2 linked regions of the Homo sapiens genome follow. The protein of the gene in region 1 interacts with the protein of each later gene in a biochemical or structural test. Each region holds a gene or a part of one and is shown on either strand. Other genes may lie near its edges.

Region 1 (3,822 bases):
TTGAACCCAGGAGGCAAAGGTTGCAGTGAGCCGAGATCATGCCACTGCACTCTAGCCTAGGCAACAGAATGTGACTCTGTCCCAAAAAAAAAAAAAAAAAAAAAAAAAGGAAATACAAAAATTAGCCAGGCCCAGTGGCGTGCGCCTATAATACCAGCTACTCAGGAGGCTGAGGCACAAGAATCTCTTGAACCTGGGAGGCAGAGGTTGCAGTGAGCTGAGATCGTGCCATTGCACTCCAGCCTGGGAGACAGAGCGAGACCCGGTCTCAAAATTAATTAATTAATTAATTAATTAATTAGCTGGGCACAGTGGCACACACCTGCAGTCCCAGATAGGAGGCTGAGGTGGGAGGATCACTTGAGCCCAGGAGCTCGAGGCTGCTGCGAGACGTGATTGTTCCACTGCACTCCAGCCTGGGCAACAGAGCAACACCTTGTCTCAAAAAATTGATTCATCTTCATCCACCCAAGCAGCCCAAACCTGAAAAGCCAGGCTCCCAGGGAGGCACAGTTATTGCCACGTGTCTCAGAAAATCGAAGACGGAGATCACAGCAGGAGTTTCACAAGGTTTTGGGTTGTTTTCGGGTTATTTCTTAAGATAAGAAATAGCAAGTTTTAAGAGGCAATCCATAGGAAAATGTGACAGAAAAAGTGAAAAAAAAAGTTGCTATAAGTAATACGGCCTCCTCGGAAATGGACATTTTTGCAGCTTTCTGCCTAAAAATTGTTTTTTCTTTATTCCCAGAATTTGTTGACCCTTCGCAAGACCTACCTTGATACTCATTTCACTAGATAAAAAAAATCAGCGGGAGACTCTTATAATCATTGTTTCCTTGTTCATTTTCAGAACAAACAGGAAGGAGCTCTGAAAGGTAAGAGAATATCCCCAGGCCAAAATGACCCTCTGAAAATCAAAGCCCAAAGTCTCGGGGCTATGAAGACAAAGTAGAAGAAAGGGAAAAGAGAAAAGGGGAGGAAAGAAAGAAAAGAGAAAAGGACACAGGTCATGGTGCCAGGAATTTGGAAACTGGCCACCTCGGCAATTTTGAGATGCCGGTGGGCTGGGGAGAGGGTGTCCTGGGGGACTGGCCCGGCTGAACCACCAGGCCAGCTTCTCTGCCTGGTGGAGCTAACCCGACCACCGCCTGCCTCCTGCTCCACCCTCAGACACGTACGGCTTGGACTCGTGGGGGTTGGGGTTGGGCACAGGGTCCGTGAGCCGCAGCTCGAACTCGGCGCAGCGCAGGTGCGTCTCGCGGTAGTGCTGGATGAGGGCATAGATGCTGCTGAAGGTGAGGTTGTCAGTCAAGTAGTATTTCAGGGTCCCGCCCTCCATGGTGGAGCGGATCCGGCAGTGCTGGACCCGGCCTGACCGCCTGCGGGGAGAGGACGCCATCAGTGCTGGGAGAACGCAGGCCAGGCCATTGCGGCAGCCAGGGCCTCAGAGGCGGGGACATTACATGTGGCCACACAACCTTCCCTCTGCTCCTAGAACAGACACAGGAGGCTGGGCGCAGTGGCTCATGCCTGTAATCCCAGCACTTTGGGAGGCCGAGACGGGTGGATCACCTGAGATTAGGAGTTCCAGACCAGCCTGGCCAATACAGTGAAATCTCGTCTCTACTAAAAATACAAAAATTAGCTGGGCATGGTGGTGCATGCCTGTAATCCCAGCTACTTGGGAGGCTGAGGCAAGAGAATCACTTGTACCTGGGAGACGAAGGTTGCAGTGAGCCGAGATCACGCCACTGCACTCCAGCCTGGGCGACAGAGCGAGACTCCATCTCAACAACAACAACAACAAAACCAGATGCAGGGCCTTAGTATAGGCTAGACCCTCAGCCTGGATTCCAGAACATTCTACCTACTTCCCCCACCCCACCCCACCCCATCCCCCTTTTATATATATAACTGCTTCTCTAGAGCCAGGATGCCTGGATTCAAATCCCAGCTCTGCCACATATGAACCAAGTGTCCTGGAGCAGGTCACCCGTGCTGTCTGAGCCACACTGTATTACTACCCCAGCGGTCTGACAGGAATGATAACAGTATCCACCTCAAAGAGGCATCCTGAAGAGTAAACGAGACCACACACACAAGGTGTCTCGAATACTGCCCAGCACATGGTAAGCATCATTTAGGTGTCCAGGATTATTTGCGTGTTATTAGTATTCTAATTTTCAGCCAGGTGCAATGGCTTACAGCTGTAATCCTAGCACTTCAGGAGGCCGAAGCCAGAGGATTGCTTGAGCTGAGTTCAAAACCAGCCTGGGCAACGTAGTGAGACTCCAGCTCTACAAAAAATTTAAAAGTTATTCAGGTGTCGTGGCATGTGCCTGTAGTCCCAGCTACTTAAATGGCTGAGATAGGAGGGTTGCTTGAGCCCAGGAGTTTGAGGCTGCAGTGACTGAGACTGCTCCATTGTACTACAGCCTAGGCAACAGAGCAAGACCCTATCACAATTTTTTTTTAAGTGACAGAATTATAATTTCCCTCTTTCAGGTCTCATCTTCTTTCAGGAAGGTTTTCCTAACCATTCCCCACGTCAGGGCATCAGAGCCTTCCTCACAGACTTTCACAAATCCCCCCAACTCACATTAAACCCCCCCAATAAAGGGAGGGATGTCCCTTTATGTTGCCTTGTTTCATTGCACTCATCACAACTATACTTGCAAATCATTTGAGTGACTGCTTTTTCATTGCCCATCTCCTTCAAAAGACGCTAGTGTCCAGGAGGACAAAGACATTGTCTGTCTGGCATAAGTACTGTGTCTAGCACAGGGCACGCCCTCAAGAAGTATCTTTTAATGCACTGAGACATGGATAAGTGGGTGGATGAATGAATGCACAAGCTCATCACAGCCTATGACGGCTTCAAAAGGACAGCCCTAGAGTCCTCGTTTTATGGAGGAGACAGAGATGCTAGAAGGTTGGCTGAATCATCCAGAGCCACATGACCCACTCCAGGGCTGGGATCGGGGAAAGTGAGTGAGACCACATCATCTAAGAGTAGGGTCAGATCTTGTCTTTGTTTAAAATGTTCATATTTTGTTCATCACAGACTTTTTTGCATTACTTTTGATTTTTTAAAAGATTGCCCTGAAATCTCATTAATCTGGGTTACAGTGCCGAAGTGAGTCATACCCACCTCACCCTTGTCCCGGCCTAGAAGAGCTAGACAAATGAAGCCTGGGATTCAGGTCCCAGCCTGCCCAATTCCTGCCTGAGCTAGAACCACTCGCCACCCTGCCTCATCGGTTGGCATGGAGAAGAAGGTAGGCGTTCCCTGGGTCGGGGGCATTACCAGAAGGACAGGGTGTAGTCATTGGGGAAGGTCTCGCTCTCCCGAACCAGGAAGGTGCCATCCTTGCCCCCCGTCTCCATGCAGTATTCCTGCAGCAACTTCTCGGCACTCGTCCTCTTCTCCACCTTCTTGTGGAACCATTTCTCCCCAAAATGTAGTTCTGTAGGGGGTATATCCTGGGCCGCAAAGAGAGGAGGGGTTTCTGAAAGCCTTGGACCAAACCCCAGCATCACTAGACAGGTCCTTCTGTCTCACCCTGACCCAGGGTACCAGATAACATAGAGAGGCCAGCCTCAGCTGGTCCCCACCCGAAGGGGTATGGGAAAACAGCACCTGCTACCCTCCTCTGCCTGCCTCCCACTCCTGAGAGCCCTCATTTATGGTGGCCTCCTGGCATCCTGAGACATGCAGTGAACGGTTCCCAGCAAAGCCCTCCATTCTGTTCTATGGGAAGTCTGAGAGCCATGAGGCCCTGGGGGCTGCAGAAATAAACAGCGGGAAAGATGACCACAGCT
Region 2 (3,822 bases), on another chromosome or scaffold:
TAGAAATCTGTAGTCTCCTTAACCTTATATGTAAGTGTTTGAGAAAGATTATTTTAGGATTCTCTGTTAGCAGTTATGTTTATTATACTCTACTTCTTAAGCCAGAGAACTAAATTTAAAAGAAGCAAAATGTTTTTCTGCTTAGCTCTCAGTAAACCAGAAAAATTAAACAAACCCTAAGACTTTCAGCTATCTGATGCTTCCCACTATATTTTCGTACAACTATTGGGCACACTTGACTCCCTAAACACTCTGACCTCTTTCCACCGTCCCTTTCTAGCTCCATCTTGCATCATTGTTGAGTCTTCTAATTCAACGGAGGTTTTGCTTGGAGTCCAGGCTGGTGTGTTTGGCCAGTGGAGGAGCCACAGTGGAATAACAGTGAGGGTTATTCAAAAGTAGAACCCAGCTGGGTGCGGTGGCTCACGCCTGTAATCCCAGCAGTCTGGGAGGCTGAGGCCGGCGGATCACAAGGTCAGGAGATCGAGACCATCCTGTCTAACACGGCGAAAACCCTTCTCTACTGAAAATACAAAAATTAGCTGGGGGTGGTGGCGCGCGCCTGTAGTCCCAGCTACTTGGGGGGGCGGGGGCTGAGGCAGGAGAATCGCTTGAACCCGGGAGGCGGAGGTTGCAGTGAGCCGAGATCGCACCACTGCACTCCAGCCTGGACGACAGAGCGAGACTCCGTCTAAAAAAAACAAAACAACAACAAAAAAAGTAGAACCCAAGCCTAGAACCTTCCTATTTCTCTTCAGGGAAAAACCAGGTTAACTCGATCTGACTCTCATCTCTGCATTGTGCTTTCCTTTTTAGAATGCTTTCGCACAGTCATGGCTCAGGTAAAAGACATGTTCCCAGGTTCTTCTCCCCCAACTTTTGTGTTGTTGTTGTTGTCGTCCTTTTTGTTCTTACCTGTATCCTGTAATACCCGTGTTTCTCTCTGAAGATTCGGTATGTGTAGACAATATTTTTAAACCTGTGGAAAAAATGACTGTGTGAATCAAAATGTTCTATGCAAATCCAGGTAACATCTATCGTTATGTTTCATATGCAATACCTTTGTTAATCTACAATCCTAAAAAAACTCTTTTTTTTTTTCTGGGACGGAATATCACTCTGTCGCCCAGGCTGGAGTGCAGTGGTGCGATCTCAGCTCACTGCAACCTCCGCCTCCCGGGTTCAAGCGATTCTCCTGCCTCAGCCTCCTGCGTAGCTGGGATTACAGGCACCCACCATCATGCCCGTTAGAATGGCTATTATCAAAAAAGACAAAGGATATAGAGAAAGGAAAACCCTTGTACAATGCTGATGGGAATGTAAATTAGTATAGCCATATGGAAAACAGTATGGAGGTTCCTCAAAAAATTAAAAATAGAATTACTGGCCGGGTGCCGTGGCTCACGCCTGTAATCCCAACACTTTGGGAGGCTGAGGAGGGCAGATCACGAGGTCAGGAGTTTCAGACCAGCCTGGCCAACATAGTGAAACCACGTCTCTACTAAAAATACAAAAATTAGCTGGGTGTGGTGGCGTATGCCTGTAATCCCAGCTACTCGAGAGGCTGAGGCACGAGAATCGCTTGAACCCAGGAGGCGGAGGTTGCAGTGAGCCAAGATCATGCCACTGCACTCCAGCCTGGGCGACAGAGCGAGACTCTGTCTGAAAAAAAAAAAAAAAAAAAAAAAATATATATATATATATATATATATATATATATGTAATTACTATATAACCTCACTACTGTGTATATATCCAATGGAAATGAATCTAGTATGTTGAAGAAATATCTGCACTCCCACTTTTATTGCAATATTAGTCACAATAGCCAAGACATGGAATCAACCTAACTTGATTAATAGATGAATGAAGAAAGTTACACACACACACACACACACACACACACACACACACACACAATGGAATATTATTCAGCCATAGAAAAATAAAATCCTGTTACTTGCAACAACATGGATAAATCTGGAGGATGTTATCCTAACTGAAATAAGCCAGGCACAGAAAGAAAAATACCACATGGTCTCACTCATACGTGGCATCTAAAAAAAGTTGATATCATAAAACTAAAGAGTAGAATGAGAGTTCTCAGGCCTTGTCAGTGAGAGGGGGAGGATTAGGGAGATATTGGTCAAAGGATACAAAATTTCAGTTAAACAAGAGATCTATTGTACAACATGATGACTATAGTTAATAACCATATATTACGTTCTTAGGCAGGGCACAGTGGCTCAGGCCTATAATCCTAGCACTTTGGGAGGCCAAGGTGGGTGGATCACCTAAGGTCAGGAATTCAAGACCAGCCTGGCCAACATGGTGAAACCCTGTCTCTACTAAAAATACAAAAATTTGCTGGGTGTGGTGGCAGGCACCTGTAATCCCAAGTACTCAGGCGGCTGAGACAGGAGAATAGCTTGAACACAGGAGGTGGAGGCTGCAGTGAGCCGAGATGGTGCCACTGCACTCCAGCCTGGGTGACAGAGTGAGACTCCATCTCAAAAAAAATAAAATAAAATAATAACCATATATTATATTTTTGAAAAATGCTGAGAGGATATTTTAAGTTTTCTCACTACAAAAATGATAACTTGATGAGGTAATGCATATGTTAATTAGCTAGATTTAGTCATTCCACAACGTATATATATTTTAAAACATCACATTGTACAAAATAAGTACATATAATTTTATCTATCAAATAAAATAAAATGAATTAGATTGTATACTTTAAATATGTACAGCTTATTTTACTTGAATTAGACTTAAGTTTTTAAAAATAAAAAAAGTAAAATCTGCTGTTGAACCTCAATAAAAAAAGAAAAGAAAATACATGGATGGCAAATAAGCACTCGTAAAGATACCCAGTATCATTAGTCATTAGTGAAACGCAGATTCAACTCACAATGAGATACCACTACACACTTATTAATACAGTTAAAATGTAAAAGACTGACCGTTCCACATGTTGGTAAGGATGTAGAGCAATCAGAACTCATGTAATGCCCATGGGAATAGTGAGATCGCATGATCACTTTGGGAAACAGTTTGGCAGTTTCTTAAAAAAGATAAGCCTACATAGAACACACAACTTAGCTGTTCCAATCCTGATTATTTACCCAGGAGAAATGAAAGCATACACCCACACAAAGACTTAGTCACAAATATTCATAGCAACTTTAGCTGTAATAGCTATAAATGAGTAAGCAATTTGGGATGCATCCCTACAATGGAGCACTATTCAGCAATGCAAAAAAATGAACTATTGCTGCATGCAACCACATAGATGGATCTCAAAATAATTATTCCGAATAAAAGAAGTCAGATAAAAATGACTACATACTCTATGATTTGATTTACATTAAATTCTGGAAAAATACACATTAATCTATAGTGCCAGAAAGCAGTTTGTGGTGGCCCAGAGTCTGGGCATAGGTGGGAGGTATGTTGATGAGAAATTACAAAGGGGTGCAAGTGAAGTTTTGGAGGTGATAAATATGTTCATTATCTTGGCTGTGTTCGTTTCATAAGTGTACATACATATGTCAAAATCCATCAAATTGTACACTTTTTATTTTATGTCAGTGATACCTCAATAAAGCAGTAAGACATATTCATGGCATAAAAAGGTAGATGAATATAATTTATCTTTCTAATATATAAACTAAATTTTAATTCCTTATACATATGTGCTTTTGCTGTTTTCATGATTGGTTTTTGGCCTCAGATAGAAAAAGTGTTTCCTATTTTTGCAGTTATGTTCTCAATAAATATGTGGTGTCTTGACTCTCTGTGTGAGACTGATACCCA

Evidence for each region.
Region 2: the proteins of PLCG2 (region 1) and SH2D1B interact in a biophysical measurement, tested with the Homo sapiens proteins (one study listed by IntAct).

What each region holds. Positions count from the first base shown.
Region 1 is NC_000016.10:81,908,077-81,911,898, reverse strand, and holds part of PLCG2 (1-phosphatidylinositol 4,5-bisphosphate phosphodiesterase gamma-2), read right to left. Parts: intron 3,484-3,822; coding exon 3,308-3,483; intron 1,380-3,307; coding exon 1,179-1,379; intron 1-1,178. UniProt on the Homo sapiens protein: The production of the second messenger molecules diacylglycerol (DAG) and inositol 1,4,5-trisphosphate (IP3) is mediated by activated phosphatidylinositol-specific phospholipase C enzymes. It is a crucial enzyme in transmembrane signaling.
Region 2 is NC_000001.11:162,401,824-162,405,645, forward strand, and holds part of SH2D1B (SH2 domain-containing protein 1B), read right to left. Parts: intron 980-3,822; coding exon 916-979; intron 1-915. UniProt on the Homo sapiens protein: Cytoplasmic adapter regulating receptors of the signaling lymphocytic activation molecule (SLAM) family such as CD84, SLAMF1, LY9 and CD244. In SLAM signaling seems to cooperate with SH2D1A/SAP.